Linked DNA regions of Homo sapiens: all the other regions are reported to be linked to region 2. Evidence: microRNA targets listed by miRTarBase, many of them from high-throughput screens and not tested one by one. Region 2 holds a microRNA gene; each other region holds the end of a gene's coding sequence.
What was found. The annotated mature microRNA hsa-miR-6760-3p reads ACACUGUCCCCUUCUCCCCAG and lies in region 2 at 2,923-2,943, opposite strand. An mRNA with a match to its seed (bases 2 to 7 or 8) in the 3' UTR can be bound and repressed. Matches are read on the target gene's strand: a 7mer-m8 pairs with bases 2 to 8, a 7mer-A1 pairs with bases 2 to 7 and ends in A, and an 8mer does both.

Region 1: miRTarBase lists RAB11FIP5 as a target of hsa-miR-6760-3p. Seed matches in the 3' UTR shown: 7mer-m8 at 2,625-2,631.
Region 3: the mRNA of ZNF24 is a reported target of hsa-miR-6760-3p. The part of its 3' UTR that is shown has no 7-base or 8-base seed match.

Annotation. Positions count from the first base shown.
Region 1 is chr2:73,072,267-73,076,502 of GRCh38, forward strand. RAB11FIP5 (RAB11 family interacting protein 5) reads right to left here. Exons shown (of 6, transcript NM_001371272.1): 5 at 3,727-3,916; 6 at 1,116-3,458. The coding sequence ends at 3,255. Among named protein-coding and RNA genes, the nearest start is that of SFXN5, 2.7 kb to the left of the region's middle. RefSeq lists an enhancer at 1-44.
Region 2 is chr12:111,302,893-111,307,131 of GRCh38, reverse strand. MIR6760 (microRNA 6760) reads right to left here and starts at 2,990; the gene lies at 2,923-2,990. It overlaps CUX2 (cut like homeobox 2), which reads right to left. Exons shown (of 22, transcript NM_015267.4): 10 at 2,818-2,922; 11 at 20-211. All of the region lies in intron 2 of LOC105369983 (a long non-coding RNA gene), which reads left to right.
Region 3 is chr18:35,333,923-35,338,161 of GRCh38, reverse strand. ZNF24 (zinc finger protein 24) reads left to right here. Exons shown (of 4, transcript NM_006965.4): 4 at 392-4,239. The coding sequence ends at 930. Among named protein-coding and RNA genes, the nearest start is that of ZNF24, 8.4 kb to the left of the region's middle.

The DNA.
Region 1 (4,236 bases), not on the chromosome of region 2:
CTGTACCCGGAAGACTAAATCTTCGCCTGATGCTGGCTTTCTGGCTTTAGCCTAAACATTGCATTTCCCAGTCCATCACTCTGCTTGCACAAAATCCCACAGAGGCTCCGTGGCACCCAGCACTTCTCTTTTGCACTCACAACTACTTACTGTTCTGGACAGTCTTTCTTACTGTAAAGTTCACAGGGCAGGGGCTATGACTTTTTGATTCACTTCAGTTTTCAGAGCCAGACATAAAAGGGCTCACAGTAGAGACTCAAATAAGTGTTGGCTGTGAGTTCATCAGTGGGGGATTAAGAGCCCTGGCAGCTTTCACCTTGTCTGGCCAACCAAGGAAGATCCCTCCTGGGCCTAATTCCTGGGCAGGAGGAGAACTTGGGACTAGGGTGGGTGGGGAGGGTGTTAGGTAAGGGGGAGTATTACAGATTGTGGAGTAAGGATCAGTATGGATAATAAACACATACAGTTGTAGAATGGATTAGCTGAAGATTCCCAGCTGAATTACCTGGTCAGTGAGCCAGACTTCGGGAGCTGCCTGTTTTGCCCAAGATGACAGTAGAAATATTTGGTCTTCTAGGGAACTCCACTTTGGGTCTCATTAGTCTCGTGGTGGAGTGCAGGGTTGGCTCATGTCTGCCAGTGTTTCTGGACACTACATGAGCTGTAGCAGTCAAAGTTTTTCATCCTCTAGTAGTTGAACCACAAGAAACACTTTTCATAAAGCTAGGGGGAGATTCTAGCTAGCCACGAAGAACAATTTGTATCTTGGATTTGTATCTTATCTTAGAGATTCTATCTAGCCATGAAGAACTATTTGTATCTTGGATTTGTATCTTATCTTCCCCTGCTAGACCATGCAACTTGAGAATAGGAATCCATTTCTTACCCTCTGTATTACCAATAAATGGGCCCATCTTAGGTGCGCAATAAATGTGGGTACCCTGGGAGTCAGAAAAGACTAAGTTCAGGCTGCTGGGCAACACTGTGCTGCTGCCCCCTTATAAGGGGCAGGGACAGTGTCATCCAAGAATCCCATCACCTTGATTTAAGGTGCTTTCTCCCACAGCAGCCTCCTGTAACTGTTCATTCCAAAACAGGAACACAACAGAGCCACCTGCAGTACATGAATGTTTTATTCTTCATAAAGTGCTTAAAACATGAAGAACAAGCTCTTTATAAAGAGCCTTAACTAGGAAGACAAACAGCAAAGCAGAACCATGCCTGCTCCCTGCCCAACCCACCTGCAACTTTCCTCCAAGTGTGGCTAGGAGAAGAAACATCAACAAGGACCCTGGGCTTCGATTCAAAAACTCCTCTGAAGCCATCCATGCCCTGGGCATTAGGGAGGCCCACAAAGGTCAGGGCCAGGGCTGGGAGTGAATAAAGCCCAGAGGAATCCCCAGTAGGGGGGGTGACTCCCCCTCTCTCAGAAAAGATACTTACTTCTCTAATACCCAATGACCCCCAAAAGCATGACTGAAACCCTGGGGACCAGTGGATACTTTTCTCAGATTTGATGAGTGGAGTTTAAGGTAGGTAACGTTACAGGGGCTTTCCTCCATGTGTGGCGCTCCTCTGCTCCATCCTGGCAGCAGACAGACATCACCCAGAGGGCACGTGTCTGCCTGAGGCCTTCCAAAAGCAAGCCCACAGGCCCTCTCCTGAAGAAGTGGTGGTCCCAGAGGAGCTCTTGCCTCCTCACTAAGCTGTTAAGTATCCTTCTTCAGCACCTCATCACCCCCCATTTTTGCTAATTCAGGGTGCCCCAAGCTGCCAAAGTTCCCTGCAGATGCCTTGGGGAAGCCTACCATGTTTTCTACAAGCAAACCAGGGGCTGGGCCAAAGGACAGATACTTCATTTCAAAGTGCACTGCAGCCAAGCCAGGCAAGCCCCTGGGGCAGAAGGGACAGGCTGAGATAGCAGCTTAATGGATGGATGGGAGGACAACAAAGGCTTTTTCCTAAGTATAGGTGTCTCCCAAAGGCATAGTGGGACCTCCCTCTTCCAGGCAAGCTGACTGGTCTAGTATGGCTAAGTCCTGAGGCCAGACAATGAGAGTGAGCAGGGCAGCCCCAGGCCTGCCTGCCCGCCTGCCCAGCAGTGTTTATCCTGGGATCCTCCTATTGGGGTTGAGGGAGGGGAAGACAGCAGGAAGGTTGAGGGAGCAGCAACTTGGCCAGACCAAGAGATTAACTTTAGGGGAGGGGAACAGCCCACAGCAGTGCTGTCCATTCCCATTCCCAGGGCCCTGAGAGAGCCATCCCTATGTATTCAACAGGTGGGAGGGGGACGCCACACAGCGGGAGAGGTCGACATCCAGGGGCTCTTGACCCCGCCCACCAAAGGCACATTTTAATTGGTTTCCAAAAGTTCAAACCCTGCAGCAACACAGAGTTTTGGCATCTGGACAGGCAACAAGAATAGACATGGAGGCTTGATCCCCAAATCATAAGCAGTCCCAAGCCCCAGCCTGGAGGGACCTACACATTGGAGGTGGTCAAGAGCTCGAAAAGCAAAAAGGTGCTCTCTCCGCACCCGCCCCTGCGCCCCACACATTCCCATGTGACACTCGTGGAAAGGTCAGAGGGGTCAGGGAGCAGCCTGAAGCACACACATCATCCACCACTGTCCACATGGCACTCGCCCCACAAACAGCTCCAGACTGAAGCAGACTCAGGACATGGCAGAGACTGGCCCAGACCACACAGGCTTCTTGCTCTCAGGGGAATGGGTGTGAGGCTGAAGAGGCTGGTTGCCCGTAACTCACAGACAAACAGGCAGCGTGGTCATTGTCCCAGTAATACTAGAAGCCCCTCCAGGGACTGGAGGGAAATGAAGGGGATGGGGCTTTGGCTGTGGGAAGAAATGGCTGACCATCCTTGGGGGATAATAAAGTATGTGCTAGCAACCAGTCTTGTCCCAGATTACTGCATCAAGCTACAGTTCACCCCTGCTCTGTCTTGGGGGAAGAGTTCCAATTCCCTGGGGCCCCCAAAGCTGAGGGATATGAAAACAGGCAGGTGGGAAAGACCCAGGGCTCCCAAAGACACACAAGTTGTGCACAGAACCTGATGCCTCCAAAGGGAATCCAGAGGGCCCCCTTCCAGCAGCCCCAGTTGAGGCAGGAGGGAGAGGAGCAAGGAGTGACAAGGCAAGACAGACGATGCCCCACTGCAGATGAGAGAGTTCAGGAGGAGAGAGGGCAGGCAGCAATAGGTCCATGCCAACCCTCCTGGGGGTAGGGTGAGGAAGGCTATTTGGGGGGGCCCGGGGGGATCTGCAGCAGCGTGGGTGAGGTCTCCATGATCCGCACCAGCAGCCGGTCGATGTAGCTCTCCAGCTCCTGCACATGCTCGTCCCGCTGGCTCAGCTCCCGCTCCCGCTGCAGGAGCAGGCTGATGAGCTCATCGTGGGTCAGGTGGTAGTACTTGGCCGACTGGTCCAGCACAGCTGAGTCCTGAGGCCGGACCGAAGACAGTGAGCAGGGCAGCCCTAGGCCTGCCTGCCTGCCTGCCCGCTTGCCCGCCCGCCCGCCTGCCCACCAACACCTAAGTTTCACCACCACAGGGCCCCAGGCTGCCTGTCTCCAAAGTCAGAGCCTAACTGGCTTCAGGACTCTGATATGGGGGACCTGGCCTGCTCCCTGCCCCACCCTCACCAGGACCAAGCCCTGAGACTCCACCACACATTCTGTCAGATGGCCCCCACACCCTGCTGGGCCTTACCTTCAGCCTTTTGGTGTCCACCATCTGGCCAGCCTGGGGGGCCTGGGTCACAGGCTGAATGCTCCCAGATGTGACTGTTTTGAGCTTCTCCAGCCCACTGCTCAGGGCTATGCTCAGACTGGAGCGGGACTGCTTCCTGTCGGGGCTGCCCTCCACAGGGGCGGCACTGAGGGGCTTCACGGGGTGGGGACTGCAAAGACATACAAGAGATGGGTTACACAGAGAGAAGGGTGGCACGGGTCAAAGGTGGGGCTGCCTTCCCTGTGGAGCCTCCAGGTCTGCTGGACAGAAAGCCCAGCACTGGGTGGTAGCTGCCCCTACAGAGTCAAGGTTTCAGGGCAGCGGTGTCCAGTACTCCTCAGCAACCCCCTGGGCTGGCCTCAATTCCCACCCCACCACCTGCTCCCTCCCCATTTCACTCCCTCATTCACCGGGTGAACTGACCCTTTCACAGGGACAGCAAAGGCCATGCTACAGACTCCTGTGCACCTGCACCCACCCTCTGTCAGG
Region 2 (4,239 bases):
CCTCCTCCCCAGGACCCACTTCTATGGCCTCGGACTTGGCCGTGAGCTGCCGCTCCAGGTCGGCGATCTGGTTGGCGGATGCCTCCTCCAGCTCCTGCAGTGAGCTCTGGAGGTGCTGCACGTCCTTCAGCAGCCGCAGGATCTCCCTGTCCTTGGAGGCCAGCGCGGCCTCCAGCCGAGGGCCCGAGCACAGAGTGAAGTTCACCTTATCCTGCAGGCAAAGGGGTCTTTGAGGGGCTGAGAGGTGAGGGATGGGGGTCCACAGGTCTGGCCTCCCCACCCCTGAATCCCAAGCAGAATGCAAATTTGTTGATCTGGATGATGGTATGGGGTGTGCTTGTGTTGAAAAATTCAAAGTGTTGTATACTTATGACTTGTACACTTTTCCTTATGTATTAAGTTACACTTTGATTAAAAGATTTATTAAAAAAGAATAGCCATGACAAAAGGAAGGAGTCAGCTGAGGTTGGGGATTGGGTGCTCGCACCAGAGGAAACAGCATAGGTAAAAGTTTGAGTTTCTTTCTCAGGTCTGGCTCCTACTCCAGGGGGATGTCCCCATTCTAGGCAATAAGGGACCCTCAGGATTAGACTTGACACCTTGGAGCCACGGACCACGTTATGGGCGGCTCTTTCCTCCGCCTAATTTGCTGATAGCCCCAAGACCCATGGCTTCTCCACATTTTAGGAAATGGACCCTCTGTCCTGGATGAAGATGGAGAGGTTGCTGTTTGAGGAACCTGAAGTCAGGCTGATGTCAGGCTTAGTTACAAATAAATCTAAGAAACATTAAAAAAAAAAAAAAACCAAACAAACAAAAAGCCCCAACCCAACCCCAGCTTTCTTCCATGGAGATAAATGCCAATTAAAACAGGAAGCGGATGCCATTAATACATTAAATTAATTAGCATCGAGTGCCACTGTTGTGCTCAGAAAAGCACACCCCCCAAACCAGCAAAGTTCCCTGGGGCTGATTAGCACAGGCATTTGCCGGGTTCCACGGGGGTTAATTAAGAACCATTGGCAAATTCCTCTACGAGGCATCCTCATGGGCTCTCACTCTCCATCTCTCTCCACACAGCCTCTCTCTCCTGTGTTCACTCTCTCTGTGTTATGCCGTCACCCAGGAACATGGACACACACAGAATCTCCTGGGACACAGACACAGGCTGACACACAAGGACACACCTATAGCCACAGCACACACTAACACATGCAGTTTCCCAAATATGCTGACACACACACACAAATACACACGCATCAAAGAGAGACACTCACAAGGACACATCATCACACACAACAGACATGCGCGTGCTCAAAGAAGCCACATGCTCTCATGAGCAAAAACACCCCAGACACACCAAAGACACATTAACAATTATAACAGTAGCATCAAGTACTTAGTGAGCATATACAATGACCCAAGCACCATTTTAGGCACTTTACACATAATCCATTTTTTTTTTCAGAGACAGGATCTTGCTGTATTGCCCAGGCTGGACTCAAACTCCTGGGCTCAAGTGATCCTCCTGCCTCAGCCTCCTAAGAGGCTGGGACTACAGGCATGTGCCACCATGCCTGACTCATGTAATCCTTTTAATAACCCTATAAAGTAGATGTTAATTGTACAGATGAGGAAACTGAGGCACAGTCAGGTTAAGAATACAGTCAGTTGCCCAAAGGTCACAAGTAGAGACACACATACACAGTAACACATTCATAGAGACTCATTCCAATATTCAAACAGAAAGAGAGACATAGACACCTGGGCCTGTATATGTGGGTGTCAGGTGAAGTGAAAATTATGCTCGCAAGTTCAGGTTCATGGGTGGAGAGGGAAGTCACCCTGGAGCAGACCTGTTATTATGTAAGGAATCATGAATCTCACCCCTTGGTATGTAGAGATCTGGAAATAAGGCAGACCAATTCACATAATGAACCCAAGGCTCTCTGGGAGAGCCAGGATGGAGACTGCTAATATAGGACAGAAGGGTAGGTTGGGGTGGCCTTGATGAAAGTCTCTTGTCAAGAAATGACACTAGGACCCCAAAGAGGCACAAACCAGGAGGAAAGAGAAAGATGAATTGATTAATCAGGCCTAACACAAGAACCTCAGGGTTGATCACCGAAGACTGGCTCTTCATAGCATGTGGCTGGGGTGGGAAATCCCCCTAGAATCACCTGGCATGCTTTGGAAACCAATGGCTGAGTATGAATGTTAAATTTTATCTTGGTATGTGGCCCCACTGCAGTCCTGGTGATGACTGCCTGTTGATATGTTGGCTGGCTCACACTCCTAAAAGTACCCAGTTTTGGGACTGAAAACCAGCAGGGGCATCACCATCCCAAGCATGCACAAAGCTGCTATGACCGGTGTTCAACAGCGACACCTGGTGGCAGCCACCAAAACTGCATGCTGCTGTATTGCCTCAAACTCCCTCTCCCCCATGTCTTTGCTGGTGCATCTGGAAATCAGAATGATCTTTGGTCTGAGGAAGTTCCTGGCATTCTTGGATAATTGGGGATAAGGGAGGCCTCCAAAGGAAGATACTGGAACTCCTGGTAATAAAGGGTATATGGAAACGTGGGCTTGAAAAGTAAAGAACTGTAGCTGTATTTTTATCCTCAGCTGGTGTAGCAGGTCATAGTGATTATGCTCACCGTATGCACAGAGACCCACACACATTCACACTCCCAGTTTCAAATGGATGCACACAATCAACCACAAAGTGTCACCCACATGCTGAAACCTGCAAACTCAGCCATTCCCGATCTTTCCCTCTGCCCTCCCTGCTCACTTCCCCAACCCCATCCTTACCCCACTGGGCCCCTGGGGAGAGCAGCAAGCCAGGCGGATGGAGCTGTTGACAGAGGCCAGCTGTTCCCGGAGACTTTCCACCTCCCGCTGGGCAGCCTCAGCTCGCTGGGGAGAAGGGGACAGTGTGGGCGAGAGGTGAGCCCACTCTGCACTTCCACCTTCTCCCTGCACTGTTTCAGGCAGGGGTTGGGGAGGCAGACCTCCGAGGGCCTCAGGTCCTGCCTTCCTAGTCCCGGACCCTGTCCTGGAGCTATGAAGACCAGTCACAGAGCCCTGTCTGGGCTGGGGACAAGAAATAGCAGCCTCTGGGGTTACTCCTGAGCTGAGAGGACAGGAAGAAATGCCCCTCTGAGGAGGTTCTGGGTTCTCGTGGGGTGCCTGGGACCCCCAGAGGAGTCAGAACATTCCTGCTCTATGAAGGCAGGATGAGAGAGGCTCTCTGGGTGGGACTGGCAGGTTTTCACACATTTCTAGATACTTCTGTCTGCCACATTAACTTCAGGCCTGGCTAGTCTGAAGGCAAGAGCTGTTCCAACTCTCATGCCACCTGGTATGGAATGAGTCCCAGACACGGCATCTGCAAAGGTGCTTTCCCAGGCCACAGGTTATTGCAGCCCCTGGGCAAGTCACTTCCTCTCCCTGGGTCTCAGTTTCTTTTCTTTTCTTTTTTTTTTTTTTGAGATGGAGTCTCACTCTTGTCACCCAGGCTGGAGTGCAGTGGCACAATCGTGGCTCACTGCAAGCTGCCCCTCCTGGGTTCACGAGATTTTCCTGCCTCAGCCTCCCAAGTAGCTGGGATTACAAGTGCACACCACCACACCCAGCTATTTTTTGTATTTTTAGTAGAGGTGGGGTTTCACCATGTTGGCCAGGCTGGTCTTGAACTCCTGACCTCAGGTGATCCACCCGCTTCAGCCTCCCAAAGTGCTGGGATTACAGGAGTGAGCCATCGTGCCCAGCTCAGTTTCTCTTTTTGAAATGGGGAGCAATGAAAACATCTAACACAAAGAGGTTTTGAGTGGTTAAAATCAGAATGCAGCAGTTCACTAAACTGGGTCTATGGTCGATTTTTTTTTTTTTTTTTTTTTTTTTTCGAGACAGGGTCTCGCTCTGTCACCCAGGCTGGAGTGCAGTGGTGCAATCAGGGCTCACAGCAACCTCCAACTCCCGGGATCAATTGATCCTCCCATCTCAGCCTCCTGAGTAACTGGGATTACAGGTGTGCACTACCATGACGGGTTAATTTTTGTAGTTTTAATAGAGACGGGTTTTGCCATGTTGGCTAGGCTGGTCTTGAACTCCTGGGTTCAAGTAACCCACTTGCCTTGGCTTCCCAAAGTGCTGGGATTACAGGCATGAGCTACTGTGCCCAGCTGGTAGATTTCTTTTTCTTTTCTTTTTTTTTTTTTTTTTTTAAGACAG
Region 3 (4,239 bases), not on the chromosome of region 2:
CTTTCTCAAAGTAAAAGAACATTATAATGATTTCCTAGTGGCCAATTTTATTTTATTTTTATTCTTACAAAGTTTCATCCATACCTAGCCACATCATTTTGACTATCTCCCTAACCATCTTAGAATCTACCATCTTTCTGACCTTTGTTTTCTGACTACCATTTGTAAACCACTTGCCTATGTTTTATTCAGATATCCCTTATATCATGATGTTATACTGTTATTCAGAGTAATTTCATTTTTTCTTTTTTGAGAATAGGCCTTAACACCAGTGTCAGAGTGGTTTATAGATGTGTGCTAGCTATTTTAGTTCATTAAAAAAAAAATTTTTTTTAGGTTTCTTTTCCCTTAATAGATAATGAATGATATTTACATTTTCTGTTTATTTCAGATGATGATGGTAGGACTGAAAATGGAGCACTAGCTCCAAAGCAGGAGCTTCCTTCAGCATTAGAATCCCATGAAGTTCCTGGCACTCTCAATATGGGTGTTCCTCAAATTTTTAAATATGGAGAAACCTGTTTCCCCAAGGGCAGGTTTGAAAGAAAGAGAAATCCCTCTCGAAAGAAACAACATATATGTGATGAATGTGGAAAACACTTCAGTCAGGGCTCAGCCCTTATTCTTCATCAAAGAATTCACAGTGGGGAGAAACCTTATGGATGTGTTGAGTGTGGGAAAGCATTCAGCCGAAGTTCCATTCTTGTGCAACACCAGAGAGTCCACACTGGAGAAAAACCTTACAAATGTCTTGAATGTGGGAAAGCCTTTAGCCAGAATTCGGGGCTTATTAATCATCAGAGAATCCATACTGGGGAGAAACCTTATGAATGCGTTCAGTGTGGGAAATCGTATAGTCAAAGCTCAAATCTTTTTAGACATCAGAGAAGACACAATGCAGAAAAACTTCTGAATGTTGTGAAAGTTTAAGAAATTGAAAAAAAAAAAAGAATCAGCACTCAGGTCTTTTTCTTCAGAAATGAAGACAAAATTTAAAATATGAAATGATGCAGAATAGTTTTTTCCCTATTGACTGTCAGAAAATCCACTGGGAAATGTAAAAATCTTCACTCACCATTATGATATTTATCTTGAAAGAAATGGTGTCATACCTGCCTAGAAACTGAAATTTTAAACTTAATTCAGGTCTTAATGCCTAAATTTTCCATGTGATGTTTATAGTCTGTATTACTTCTCCAAATAATGAACTACCTGATTCATTGTCCCTTTCTTGAAAGTTTCTTTTTTAAGACAAATACATTATTTCTGCATTGATCATTGAAATGTTCTTTATATGGATACATTCCCTTATATATTAAAAGGCAACAGGAATTACAAAGTCTGAAAACCATTTTAAACCATCTTTTAAAAATTTACCCTTATTTCCTTTTACCTAATTTGAATATGCATTTGAGAAAATAAGAGGATAAAGGATGGCTAAGAGCCTCAAAATGAACCATAAGATCTCAGATAAGAAGTGATGGTGATAAAACATCAAAAAGTGAATGGAACACCTTGATTGGGGAAGATATGCAAATACTTTGATCTAAGAATTGAAATGTATCAAGAATTTATATTTTGCCTGCAGGAAAATTCAAAAGCTACTCATCCTCTCTATAATTTGGAGTCATCTTACTAATGAAAATAATGTTTTCCCATATATTATTAAAAAGCATACAGTCTAAATAATAAACAGTTGTAAAATAATGAAGGTAGAAATTATAACACTAGGGAAAAATTTGTAGCGGATGGCAGTGTTGAAGGCAAATGTAAACATAAGGGTAATGGTCTGTCATGGCTTTTAGAAAAAGATGATAGAGTTCATCATTATTTTGCCTTCATCTTTGTTAAGGACAGAAAATTCCCTGACAGGTGGGCAAGTATCAGGTTACCTATTTTTTATTCCTTTGGTACAAAAGGGTTGAACGTCAGGCTAAAAAAGCAGCCATGCATTTATTATTAAACATTTTCTACCGACAAGGCACTGTGCTAGGTACTGTAATCCTACCATAAGTAGGTAGGTATTTCTTCCACTGTAAATCATAGGGGTTTGCTGTTTTATGTGAGTTAGCCTCTTCCCCTTGTCTGAGCATTCCTCAGGGGAGGTCACCTGTGAGGTTCCCAGAACTGTAGTTTTTTTTACCAGGGTGTTGTATTTGGAGGGGGAGGAGGACTCGGCTCAAAAGAGCTAGCTGGCTCTCCAGTGTTCAGAGGTGAGTCCACGATACTCTTACCACAATTTGGAAGTTTGTGAATCTTTTTAAAGAACTAATCAATCTCTAATAGCATTGAGGTTGTACCTACATATTAAGTTGAATGGACTGTTCTATTTAAAAAATAAACAACTAGACAATTAACTAGTTTATTAACCTATCACAATTGAATTTTTTTTTAATTTTCAGTCTTAACACATTTTTTAAAATGTATTAAAGTAATACATTGTAGTAGTAGGATTATATACTCCTTGGCTGAGAATTCCAAGTACTGTGGTTCTACTGTTTAGTGGAAAACTCTGGAAGTTAAAATATAGAATATGAGAGGAGGCTTTTTTATAATGGGCATCATTGTGTGGAAAATGACCCATGTGAATACAAATATTTCCTAGTTCAGAGATTTTGGTTATATCTGGTGCTTGGATCAAGTTTAAAAATGGAAGGTGAGATTTTGCATGAGCCTATTAAAAAGCATAGTAATAAATGCAAGGCCAGCTGGTGGAAAAGTGAGGCAGAATGGAGCTTGTTTATAGGTTTTCTGATAACAATTATAAAAAATGTGCTTTATAGATTAAGATTTATTGAAGTATAAATATGTAGTAATGATATAATGTATTTTAAGTTATACAAGAAAATGTAGGGACTTTTGTTTGGGTCTTTTTCTCTTTGTGGCTGAGGGGAAACAAGTCAGTGTCCAATAAAGCTGTAAACTCCTCTGCTCTAAGATAAATGATGTGATTTATTTATTTATAACTGGCTTCTTTCCAAGTAGGTTTTCAGGTGGCATATTTGGAAGACGGCTGGAATGACAGAATTCTTGTATCAGAGTAGGTAAGAAGGGAGCAACCTCTCAATGGCTATTATGTCATGCTTTTTAAGATCGTATGCGGTTCCTATATACAAGGAAGCTTCCCTGTGGTAGATTTGTCATAAATGCCAAAGATATTTGGTAATGTGAGTGTAGAAAAAGTAGTATGAGGGTTGGCAAATACTGTTTTTGTCTTGGCAGCTCTAATATCTGCATTGTTCAGAAAGGATTCTGAGGCTAAGGCAAAGCTCTGTGGGAAAAAGGGACTGGACCAAAAAAAACTGGATGGTGGCACACAAGAAGAGGAAATGATGAGATGTGTACTTTCTATCTCTGGTTAGGCTTAGTCCCCACTAGACAAATTGATTTTAAATACTATGTAGTGATTTTTAAATTCCATCCACACATTCATTACCCACACAGATAATCATAGAAATTTGGGGGAGTGCCTAGCTTCTGATGAAGTGGTGATATGGCAGTGCCAAGCAGTGGCATCGCCAGAGTATCTGTTTGGTTAGCAAATGAGCAGTCATTTTAGGTCATGCAGATTGCTGATATCTGCCCAGTAGCCACTGAGCATTTGCTGGTTTTTTCTTCTGGCTTTCTTGGAGGTTAAGCTCTCTGTAGTCATACCCAGTTGGTACTTGATCTTTAGCAATATGTCTCATATTCATGTAAATTGAAGGGAGGGTTACATGTACTGAAATAATCTGCATGCTAGGCATTGGCTTAGACACCGTACCTATCTCACTTAGATTTGTGGACTAGGAAAGCAAGATTCAGAGATCATGTGACTTGCATGTGGCCTAGAGATAAAATTCAAATCTGGTTCTGTAGACTCCAGGGACATATTCACCATGCCATGGGTGGTGGCTATTAAACCTTGATAAATTTGTGTTTATGGTTAACAAATGTGAAAGCTATTAAACATTGCTGGTTTGAATTTTTTACAGTGCAGAAATGTAAAATGAAAAAGGATATTTCCTTTCACAGTGTTACCGAGAAGTCATGATAATTTCGTTTGTTCTTCCAGATTTAGGCATATACTTATTTAATCAATAATGTGTTAACAGCTGACACCTGTGGTTGCTGTGACAGGCACTATTTGAAGTGCTTTATCATGGATTAACTCTTAATCCTCAGCTACCGTATAAAGTAGGACATAACCCCATTTCACATGCACTACACTGAGACTTGCCTCCTCTCCCCCCACATTGA